Homo sapiens: one gene and its partners. The protein of the gene in region 1 purifies or fractionates together with the protein of each later gene. This does not show direct contact. Each region holds a gene or a part of one and is shown in the gene's direction. Other genes may lie near its edges.

Evidence for each region.
Region 2: the proteins of P3H2 (region 1) and COL10A1 purify together in Homo sapiens (co-immunoprecipitation; one large-scale study listed by IntAct). This does not show direct contact.
Region 3: the proteins of P3H2 (region 1) and LAIR2 purify together in Homo sapiens (co-immunoprecipitation; one large-scale study listed by IntAct). This does not show direct contact.

Annotation. Positions count from the first base shown.
Region 1 is NC_000003.12:189,984,894-189,988,553, reverse strand, and holds part of P3H2 (prolyl 3-hydroxylase 2 isoform a precursor), read left to right. Parts: intron 1-884; coding exon 885-1,027; intron 1,028-1,676; coding exon 1,677-1,766; intron 1,767-3,660. UniProt on the Homo sapiens protein: Prolyl 3-hydroxylase that catalyzes the post-translational formation of 3-hydroxyproline on collagens. Contributes to proline 3-hydroxylation of collagen COL4A1 and COL1A1 in tendons, the eye sclera and in the eye lens capsule.
Region 2 is NC_000006.12:116,118,249-116,120,770, reverse strand, and holds the end of COL10A1 (collagen alpha-1(X) chain precursor), read left to right. Parts: coding exon 1-698; 3' UTR 699-1,862; downstream 1,863-2,522.
Region 3 is NC_000019.10:54,501,448-54,505,630, forward strand, and holds the start of LAIR2 (leukocyte-associated immunoglobulin-like receptor 2 isoform a precursor), read left to right. Parts: upstream 1-1,383; 5' UTR 1,384-1,471; coding exon 1,472-1,505; intron 1,506-2,252; coding exon 2,253-2,288; intron 2,289-4,183.

The DNA of each region.
Region 1 (3,660 bases):
AGTGAATCACGTGCTCAAGTCATAAACAGTGAATCAAAGATGAGAGAGTTGCTTAATTTTTATCATTCCTTTTAAAAATCAGAGTCATCTCAGAGTATATATATATGTGTGTGTGTGTGTGTATGTATTTATTATACACACATACATGCACACACACACATATATATACACACATACGTATATTGTAAATTTCCATTAGAAGAAATACAATGTTGTGAACTATTTGAAAACAAGGCATACAGACATTTAAAATTTCCCTTGTAATAGCTAAATATTTCTATAATGAAAAGTTTATATTGGAAACATCCTTGTTAGTTCCTTTTAGTAGTTTGCTACTGTAGGATGTGCTATAATTGTATAGTGAAGGATTTAAGGGGCTTCCTCCAGAACATCTGGGACTCTATGAAGGACTTTGCATTGAAGTACCAGTTTACCACAAACTGCAGCAATGAAAAATAACATTTTAAAAGCACTTATGTTACTCATACATTATATATAAAATGGTACATTACTGTTGCAAAGATCACCTTCAGGATGTTTACTTAACCCAAACTCGGTACAAAAATCAGAATTAACTCATAGAATTCTGCTGTTTATATGTGTTAAATAATAAAAGTTGTCAACAAACATCTTCAGATAGAAACTTGACGATTTGCACAAAACAACTAGTACCAAAGCAGACCAAAGGTAATAACTTTTGAATACTTGAAATCATGTCTTTCCTTTTATCTGTGACTGTTTCTGCTTTCTCTGCTGAGCCTCAATTTATCTTCCCTCTTATTCATGTTTAATGCTGACCTTTGTAGACACGTTGATGGCCTCCCTTTAAAATCCTTTGGACAGACCTAGGCTGACTCTAATGCTGCAACTCCTTTGTCTTTCAGTTGGTGAGTATGTGAAAGCCCTGGAGTGTGCCAAAGCCTATCTTCTATGCCATCCAGATGATGAGGATGTCCTAGACAATGTGGATTACTATGAGAGTCTGCTGGATGATAGCATTGACCCGGCATCCATTGAGGCCAGAGAGGTGAGACCAATGTTTTGAAAAGAAATTCTTTTTTTTTTTTTTTTTTTAAGACAGAGTTTCGCTCTTGTTGCCCAGGCTGGAGTGCAATGGCACAATCTTGGCTCACCGCAACCTCCGCCTCCCGGGTTCAAGCGATTCTCCTGCCTCAGCCTCCCTAGTAGCTGGGATTACAGGCACATGCCACCACACCCGGCTAATTTTGTATTTTTTTTTTAGTAGAGACGGGGTTTCTCCATGTTGGTCAGGCTGGTCTCGAACTCCCGACCTCAGGTGATCTGCCCGCCTCGTCCTCCCAAAGTGCTGGGATTACAGGCGTGAGCCACCGCGCCTGGCCTGAAAAGAAATTCTTGATTCTGCATGTGTTCGGGGGAGAGTTGATAAAAATATGACACTGGTCTTAAAGATGTCTAACAATTTAGCAAAGGTTGTTGAACTCGGTTCTTTCAAACTTTATTTATGCCTGAAGCACATTTTTATTCATACATGCTAGCGTGTGAAAGTATGTTGAGATGGGGCCAAGTCTTGCAGTTCTGAATATTTGTTAGCTCATTTGTGACTATCTAATGAAAATATTGCCACCTGAACATTTATCATATCTCTTACCTGCTATTTAAATAAAAAATGTCTTTCTTTACTTCTTTTTCTCTAGGATTTAACAATGTTTGTGAAACGTCATAAGCTGGAGTCTGAGCTGATAAAATCAGCTGCAGAAGGTCTGGGGTTTTCATACACTGAACCGGTAAGAGGAAAGAGGAAACGTTTATTAAAATAATGATTCAGTGGAATCCTTTTTATGTTTTTATTACCTGCCTCCATTTTTGCCATTTACCTCAAAAAGCTAAGATTTCGATGCCCTCCTTGAGGTAAAAATTGGGGGTGGGAGATATTTACTCAATATATGTGATGAACTTTATCTATTTATTTATTTATTTATTTTGAGATGGAGTCTCGCTCTTGTCGCCCAGGCTGGAGTGCAGTGGCGTGATCTCGGCTCACTGCAACCTCCGCCTCCTGGATTCAAGCAATTCTCCTGCCTCAGCCTCCCGAGTAGCTGGGATTACAGGCACACGCCACAATGCCCAGCTAATTTTTTTTTGTATTTTTAGTAGAGATGGGGTTTCACCATGTTGGTCAGGCTAGTCTCGGACTCCTGACCTCAGGTGATCCGCCCGCCTCAGCCTCCCCAAGTGCTGGGATTACAGGCTTGAGCCGCCGCACCCGGCCATCTGATGAACTTTAAAAGACTAATGGATTTCCACATCAGTCATTCCATATTAACAAGGTCTAAAGTCAAAAGCAAATCTATTGGGTAAAAGTATTTTGTGTATGACTCATTTGCCCCGGGAGTGTTTTATTTTCCTAAATTCCGGATGTGGTGTTTTAAATTTTTCTATTAATGCTTTTATGTTACCTAAACATTAAAGAGAATTCAAAATATCATCAGTCACAATGCTATCACACCCATCATGCTGACTTCACTCCGCTTTTCCATGTTGTCTTCTAATCATTGTTTATATGAAGACATAGCTTTTGCAGAAACATATACTATGGTATAAAGAGATTTGTATTCTTTTAAGAAGATACCATAAGAAATTTCTACATTTGTATAGCTTTAAAAGGTATTTTTAGCTACATTTTAGTCTCTAAAAAGTTGGTAGAATTTAGAATTTTAGATAGGTAGAATTGACATACAATAAATAAATGAACTCTTCTGCTGAACATTTGAATTATTTCTGATTTTTGAATTATACATAATGTATTAAGCATTTTTTCTCTATTGAATTATGTCCTGAAAATAAATTCTTAAGAGTGGAATTATTCTGTCATCAAAGGATATAAGGTTTTAAACTTCTTGAAACTAAATTGCTTTTCTAAGAGAATTCTCTTAGAAATTATTTATTATTAATTTATTTATAATTATATATAATTATATATGATTACTAAGAGAATAATTCTCTTGGAATTATTTATTTGCACACTATTTTAATACTAACACTATCTCATGTGGGAAGATTTAGTGACTACTCTAAAGTCTCATAGCTCACAACAGATTGAACAGGCATTTGAATCCTAGTAATGCATAAAAGTACCATTTTACCACAAATTTATCAGCGATAAGAAATAACATTTGAAAATCACTTTTATTATTTATATATTATGTATGAAATAATACATCATTTTAACTTGTAATTTTTTTGATGACCAGCAAGAATAAACCTTTTCACATATTAACTATTTTTCCTCTTCTTTTAATTACTTGGGCATGGGTTTTATTCATTTATCCATTGGTTACTATGTAAGTTCTTCAAATGATATACAAGTTAATACATTTATAAAATTATTTATAATATGTCCATTTACAACCTTTTTTCATTTCTTATGCCGTGTTTTTATAGGCACACTTTTTAAAATGGGTTAATTTTAATGTACTATTTCTAATATAACACCTTCTAATATATTAATATTTATATCGGGCCTTACTTATTATTCTTTTAAAATTATGTTATCCAAGAGACCTTAAAATATGTTATTTACTAATTTCATGATCTATACAGATGATTACTAAAGCTCAATTTTGTTTGCTTGTTTTATTCAGCAAACATAAAGAAGTTGAACTGAATGATCTTTCAAAT
Region 2 (2,522 bases), on another chromosome or scaffold:
GTACTAGAGGCCCTATTGGGCCACCAGGCATTCCAGGATTCCCTGGGTCTAAAGGGGATCCAGGAAGTCCCGGTCCTCCTGGCCCAGCTGGCATAGCAACTAAGGGCCTCAATGGACCCACCGGGCCACCAGGGCCTCCAGGTCCAAGAGGCCACTCTGGAGAGCCTGGTCTTCCAGGGCCCCCTGGGCCTCCAGGCCCACCAGGTCAAGCAGTCATGCCTGAGGGTTTTATAAAGGCAGGCCAAAGGCCCAGTCTTTCTGGGACCCCTCTTGTTAGTGCCAACCAGGGGGTAACAGGAATGCCTGTGTCTGCTTTTACTGTTATTCTCTCCAAAGCTTACCCAGCAATAGGAACTCCCATACCATTTGATAAAATTTTGTATAACAGGCAACAGCATTATGACCCAAGGACTGGAATCTTTACTTGTCAGATACCAGGAATATACTATTTTTCATACCACGTGCATGTGAAAGGGACTCATGTTTGGGTAGGCCTGTATAAGAATGGCACCCCTGTAATGTACACCTATGATGAATACACCAAAGGCTACCTGGATCAGGCTTCAGGGAGTGCCATCATCGATCTCACAGAAAATGACCAGGTGTGGCTCCAGCTTCCCAATGCCGAGTCAAATGGCCTATACTCCTCTGAGTATGTCCACTCCTCTTTCTCAGGATTCCTAGTGGCTCCAATGTGAGTACACACAGAGCTAATCTAAATCTTGTGCTAGAAAAAGCATTCTCTAACTCTACCCCACCCTACAAAATGCATATGGAGGTAGGCTGAAAAGAATGTAATTTTTATTTTCTGAAATACAGATTTGAGCTATCAGACCAACAAACCTTCCCCCTGAAAAGTGAGCAGCAACGTAAAAACGTATGTGAAGCCTCTCTTGAATTTCTAGTTAGCAATCTTAAGGCTCTTTAAGGTTTTCTCCAATATTAAAAAATATCACCAAAGAAGTCCTGCTATGTTAAAAACAAACAACAAAAAACAAACAACAAAAAAAAAATTAAAAAAAAAAACAGAAATAGAGCTCTAAGTTATGTGAAATTTGATTTGAGAAACTCGGCATTTCCTTTTTAAAAAAGCCTGTTTCTAACTATGAATATGAGAACTTCTAGGAAACATCCAGGAGGTATCATATAACTTTGTAGAACTTAAATACTTGAATATTCAAATTTAAAAGACACTGTATCCCCTAAAATATTTCTGATGGTGCACTACTCTGAGGCCTGTATGGCCCCTTTCATCAATATCTATTCAAATATACAGGTGCATATATACTTGTTAAAGCTCTTATATAAAAAAGCCCCAAAATATTGAAGTTCATCTGAAATGCAAGGTGCTTTCATCAATGAACCTTTTCAAACTTTTCTATGATTGCAGAGAAGCTTTTTATATACCCAGCATAACTTGGAAACAGGTATCTGACCTATTCTTATTTAGTTAACACAAGTGTGATTAATTTGATTTCTTTAATTCCTTATTGAATCTTATGTGATATGATTTTCTGGATTTACAGAACATTAGCACATGTACCTTGTGCCTCCCATTCAAGTGAAGTTATAATTTACACTGAGGGTTTCAAAATTCGACTAGAAGTGGAGATATATTATTTATTTATGCACTGTACTGTATTTTTATATTGCTGTTTAAAACTTTTAAGCTGTGCCTCACTTATTAAAGCACAAAATGTTTTACCTACTCCTTATTTACGACGCAATAAAATAACATCAATAGATTTTTAGGCTGAATTAATTTGAAAGCAGCAATTTGCTGTTCTCAACCATTCTTTCAAGGCTTTTCATTGTTCAAAGTTAATAAAAAAGTAGGACAATAAAGTGATGGGTGGCTTTTACAGTTGTCATGGATATGTCCCTATATTGGTGATGCATCTTTATTCCCACAGACCCAACCACTCATTGTTGACTGTGAAGAGGTACCCACAAAACCACATGCAATCTGAGTCAGGGTCAAGGGCTGATGACTAGGGATAGAAAAATGACAAAATCACCCCAAAGTTGTAATTTTCTCCTGGGAGGGAAAGAAGCAGGTGACAGAGAAATATGCAGTTTGAACAAATATTCTGCAGTTACTATTTATTGTCTTGACATGTTTTTGGTTATAATATTTAAAATTGTTTTGATGGCTTGAATTACATTTTAAAAAGGCAAGCAATTTTTTTGTCAATCACAAGGCAACATTTTTTCCAAGCTGAAAAATACTACTCTTAAGAATCCATCATCCTATTAGTTTAATCAGGACAATGTGGCTCAAGTCACTGAGGTAACATACTATAAAGGCATCTATTTATTCCTTAGAAGCAATCTTGTGTAATCCAAGCAAAGCTGTGATTGGAAAGGTAAAACTCTGGGCTCAAGATTGGTGATATCTCTGCCCTCACTCTGGGTCAGCCAGTTTTGTTCCTTAAGCAACAAGAACAAAATTTCTGCCGGCAGACATTTTGCCCACCTGTCTATAACTACTACACTAATGGTTACAAGTCACCAACCCTTAT
Region 3 (4,183 bases), on another chromosome or scaffold:
TGTAGTCCCGGCTACTCAGCAGGCTGAGGCAAGAGAATTGCTTGAGCCTGGGAGGCGGAGGTTGCAGTGAGCCAAGATTGCACCACTGCACTCCAGCCTGGGCAACAGAGTACGACTCCATCTCCACACACACATACACACACACACACACACACACAAATTGTTAATTGTATATGTATAATTATAATAGTTTATATATATTAACAATTATATATAAACTTGCATATATATAGTATTTGCTGTATTATTATATATAAACAATTATATATGTAATGACTGTATAAAATAGATAAACAATTTTAACTAATAATATTATATTAATTATATTATTATTAGATGTAATAATTATAATTATTTATATATAATATTTATTATTATGTATCATTGTTAGAACACTTAACATGAGCTCTGTCCTCTTAACAAATTTCAAGTGAACAAGACGTTATTGCTGACGATGGGTCGTATGTGGTGCAGCAGATCTCTAGGCCTGTTTGTTAATAACTCCCCATTTCCCCCTCCTCCCAGCCCCCGTAACCACCATTCCCTGCTGTGATGTTGTGACTCTGGTGACTTTGCAGATCTCCTGTAAGTGACATCATGCAGTACTTGGTCTCTGCATCTGCGTCGCTTGGCGTGATGTCCTCAGGTTTCGTCTGTGTTGTCGCCCATGGCAGAATTTTCTTCCTTGTTTAAGGCTGAATAGTATTCCCCTGTGTGTGCACCACATTTTCTATATCAATTCTTCTATCAATGGACATTTAGATGATTTTCACGTCTTAGCTATTGCGAATAGTGCTGCAGTGATCAGGGGAGTTCAGACGGCTCTTTGCATACTGAATTTGTTTCTTTTAAATATAGACCCAGAAGTGGCATTGTTGGACCATACGGTAGCTCTATGTTTAGTTTTTTGAGGAACCTCCCCACTGTTCTCTATAGTGAGTGCACAATTTTTCAGCCTCCCAAAGTGCTGGGATCACAGGCGTGAGCCACCGCGCCCGGCGCACTGTAGGATCTTTTTTAATGCATTATATACCTTGCTGAGATTTTAGCAGAGATCACAATATTAAAAACTTGGGGAAGGATTTCTATGACTCTTATTTTAAATACGAGGACATGTCGACTTCTAGTTTTGTAACATCTTGCCCAAGAGCGGTGGTCGTTAACGTGTGGAGTTGGGATGACATCCAAGTCAGTTGGTTGCACGACCTTTATTCTGTCTTGTCCCATAGATTTAGAAAGAGGCTGACACATCGGGTAACTAGTTTAAGGTCATCTGATCATGCGGGTAAGCGACATTTTTCAGAAACCAAGGCCCTCCCTCTCATCTCACTAGTGGGAAGGGTGGAAAGAACAGAACAGAAAGCTCTCCCTCTTGTGTGAGGCAGTTGCTGTGGAAGCCCCACGGGCAGGAGGCCCCCGGCCAGCACATCCTGTCTGCTTGTGTCTGCTGCAGAGTTCTGGGACCGGGGCCATGTCTCCACACCTCACTGCTCTCCTGGGCCTAGGTGAGTCCTGGAGGGAGCGGGAAGGACTGGAAAGGGGGTCGGGAGGTCTGGAAAGTTCCCTGCTCAAGCCTGACTCTAGTCCAGAAGATTCTGGGGAGGAAAGTGTCCTCCTCCCCCCAAGACTGCCCTACTGCTCTCCCTGGGGCCTAAGTCTGATCAGAGACAACCTTGTCCTAAAAACAGGGGCCCGGGTGTGGGGATGAGGTCAGCTTTAAGAAGGGCTGGGGGGCCAGGCGCGGTGCTCACACCTGTAATCCTAGCACTTTGGGAGGCTGAGGCAGGTGGATCACCTGAGGTCAGGAGTTTGAGACCAGCCTGGCCAACGTGGTGAAACTCCATCTCTACTAATACAAAAATTAGCCGGGCATGGTGGCGGGCACCTGTAATCCCAGCTACTCGGGAGGCTGAGGCAGGAGAATTGCTTGAACCCGGGAGGTGGAGGTTGCAGTGAGCTAAGATCGCGCCACTGCACTCTAGCGTGGGCGACAAGAACAAAACTCCGTCTCCAACAACACCAAAAAGAAGGGCTGGGGGAGCAGGAGCCTTTTTGGAAGAGGAGACTTTGGGATTTATCTTGAAACCATTTTGCAGCAAGAAGGATTACATGGAGACAGTGATGTCGAGGAGGGTTGGCTTGGTCGTTATGAAATGCTGAATGCCCCCCAGCTCCGTCAAGCCCCCTTTTGACAGCAGCCCTGTAAGGAGACTGGGCAGTGGGCATTTTTCTCACTGGGGCTTCTCTTCCAGTGCTCTGCCTGGCCCAGACCATCCACACGCAGGAGGGTAAGTCATGCCTTCGTCCCGTCTTCCCAGTCCCCTCTGTCACCCCAAAGGCAGTGCTGGGTGGGAGTGATGTTGATTCTTAGAGGGCCTGGAGAGATCCCTTTAAATATACCCTAGATTGCAAACTATTCCAAATGTAAAATGCATAACCCTCACCCCTTTCTCTCCTTCATTCTCCACCTGTCATGTTTTGCTTTTCTTATTTTCAAAAATCCTATATTTTATTTTATTTTTATTTTTGAGATGGAGTCTCACTCCATCACCCAGGCTAGAATGCAGTGGCATAATCTCGGCTCACTGCAACCTCTGCTCCCAGTTTCAAGCGATTCTCCTGCCTCGGCCTCCTGAGTAGCTGGGATTACAGGCACCCACCACCACCCCTGGCTAATTTTTTTTTTTTTTGTATTTTTAGAAGAGATGGGGTTTCACCATATTGGCCAGGCTGGTCTCGAACTCCTTACCTTATGATCCGCCCGCCTCAGCCTCCCACAGTGCTGGGATTACAGGCATGAGCCACTGTGCCCAGCCAAAAATCTTATTTTTAATCGACAAATAATTGTATATGTTTGTGGGGCACGATGTGATGTTACAACGTATGTAAACATTGTGGAAAGATTAAATAAGGCTAAATAACATATCAATCACATCACATACTTATTGTGATGAGAACATTTAAAACCTACTTTTAGCAATTTTGAAATATATAATAAGTTATTATTAACTATAGTCAGCCTGCTATGCAATAGATCTCAAAAACTTACTCCTCCTGTTTAACCGAAACTTTGTACCATTTGATCAGTGTCTCTCCCAAGCCCCCCATTTCCCGACTTTAATAGCATCATTCTAATCTCTAACTCTGTGAGATGACCTTTTTTGTTTGTTTGTTTGTTTTGGGATGGAGTCTCACTCTGTCACCCAGGCTGGAGTGCAATGGCACAATCTCGGTTCACCGCAAACTCAACTTCTCAAGTTCAAGCGATTCTCCTGCCTCAGCCTCTCGAGTAGCTGGGATTACAGGTGCATGCCACCACGCCCAGCTAATTTTTGTGTTTTTAGTAGAGATGGGGTTTCACCATGTTGGCCAGGCTGGTCTTGAACTCCTGACCTCAGGTGATCCACCCACCTCGGCCACACAAAGTGCTGGGATTACAGGTATGAGCCACTGCACCCGGCCGAGATGAACTTTTTTAGATTCCACATGCGGTATTTGTCTTTCTGTACCCAGCTTATTTCACTTAGCATAATGTCCTCTGGTTCATCCATGCTGTTGTGAATGACAGAATGTCCTTCCTTTTTTAGGGCTGAATAATATTCCATTGCATATATACACCACATTCTCCTCATCCATTCATTTGGTGGTGGTTATATAACTCAGGTTATTTCCAGGTCTTGGCAGCTGTGAGTAGCGCTGCGGTCACCCTGGGAGTGCAGGCATCACCTCCACACACCGATTTCCACAATGAGAATTCAAACCCAACACAACCAAGGCTGAACCCGGCACTTTTCCCCAGACGAGCCCACACTTCACTCGGCAGCTTCTTGGCGGGGAACGTGACAGTCACAAAGGGCAGACTCTGAACACTCATCCTCTTCTCCATCCTCCTGGATGCACCATGTCACCCAGTCCTGGTGATTTCACTCTAAATTTTTCTCATCTTTCCCTCTCTCTTCATCGACTTTTCCTGCATCACCCCCAGGTGACAGCCCTTCTCCCCTCCGTGGCTCCCCGAGGCCGGCCTCAGCCTGTCCATGCCACTGCTGCCTGCTCCCTTCCTGACCCCAGGGACTGGCGATTTGCAAAAGCACAACCATGACCATTGTACTTTCCACAGTTTTTAAATTGCATTCAAAAATTTTCATTTAATATCTCATCGTAAGATGAAGTTTTTTTCTTA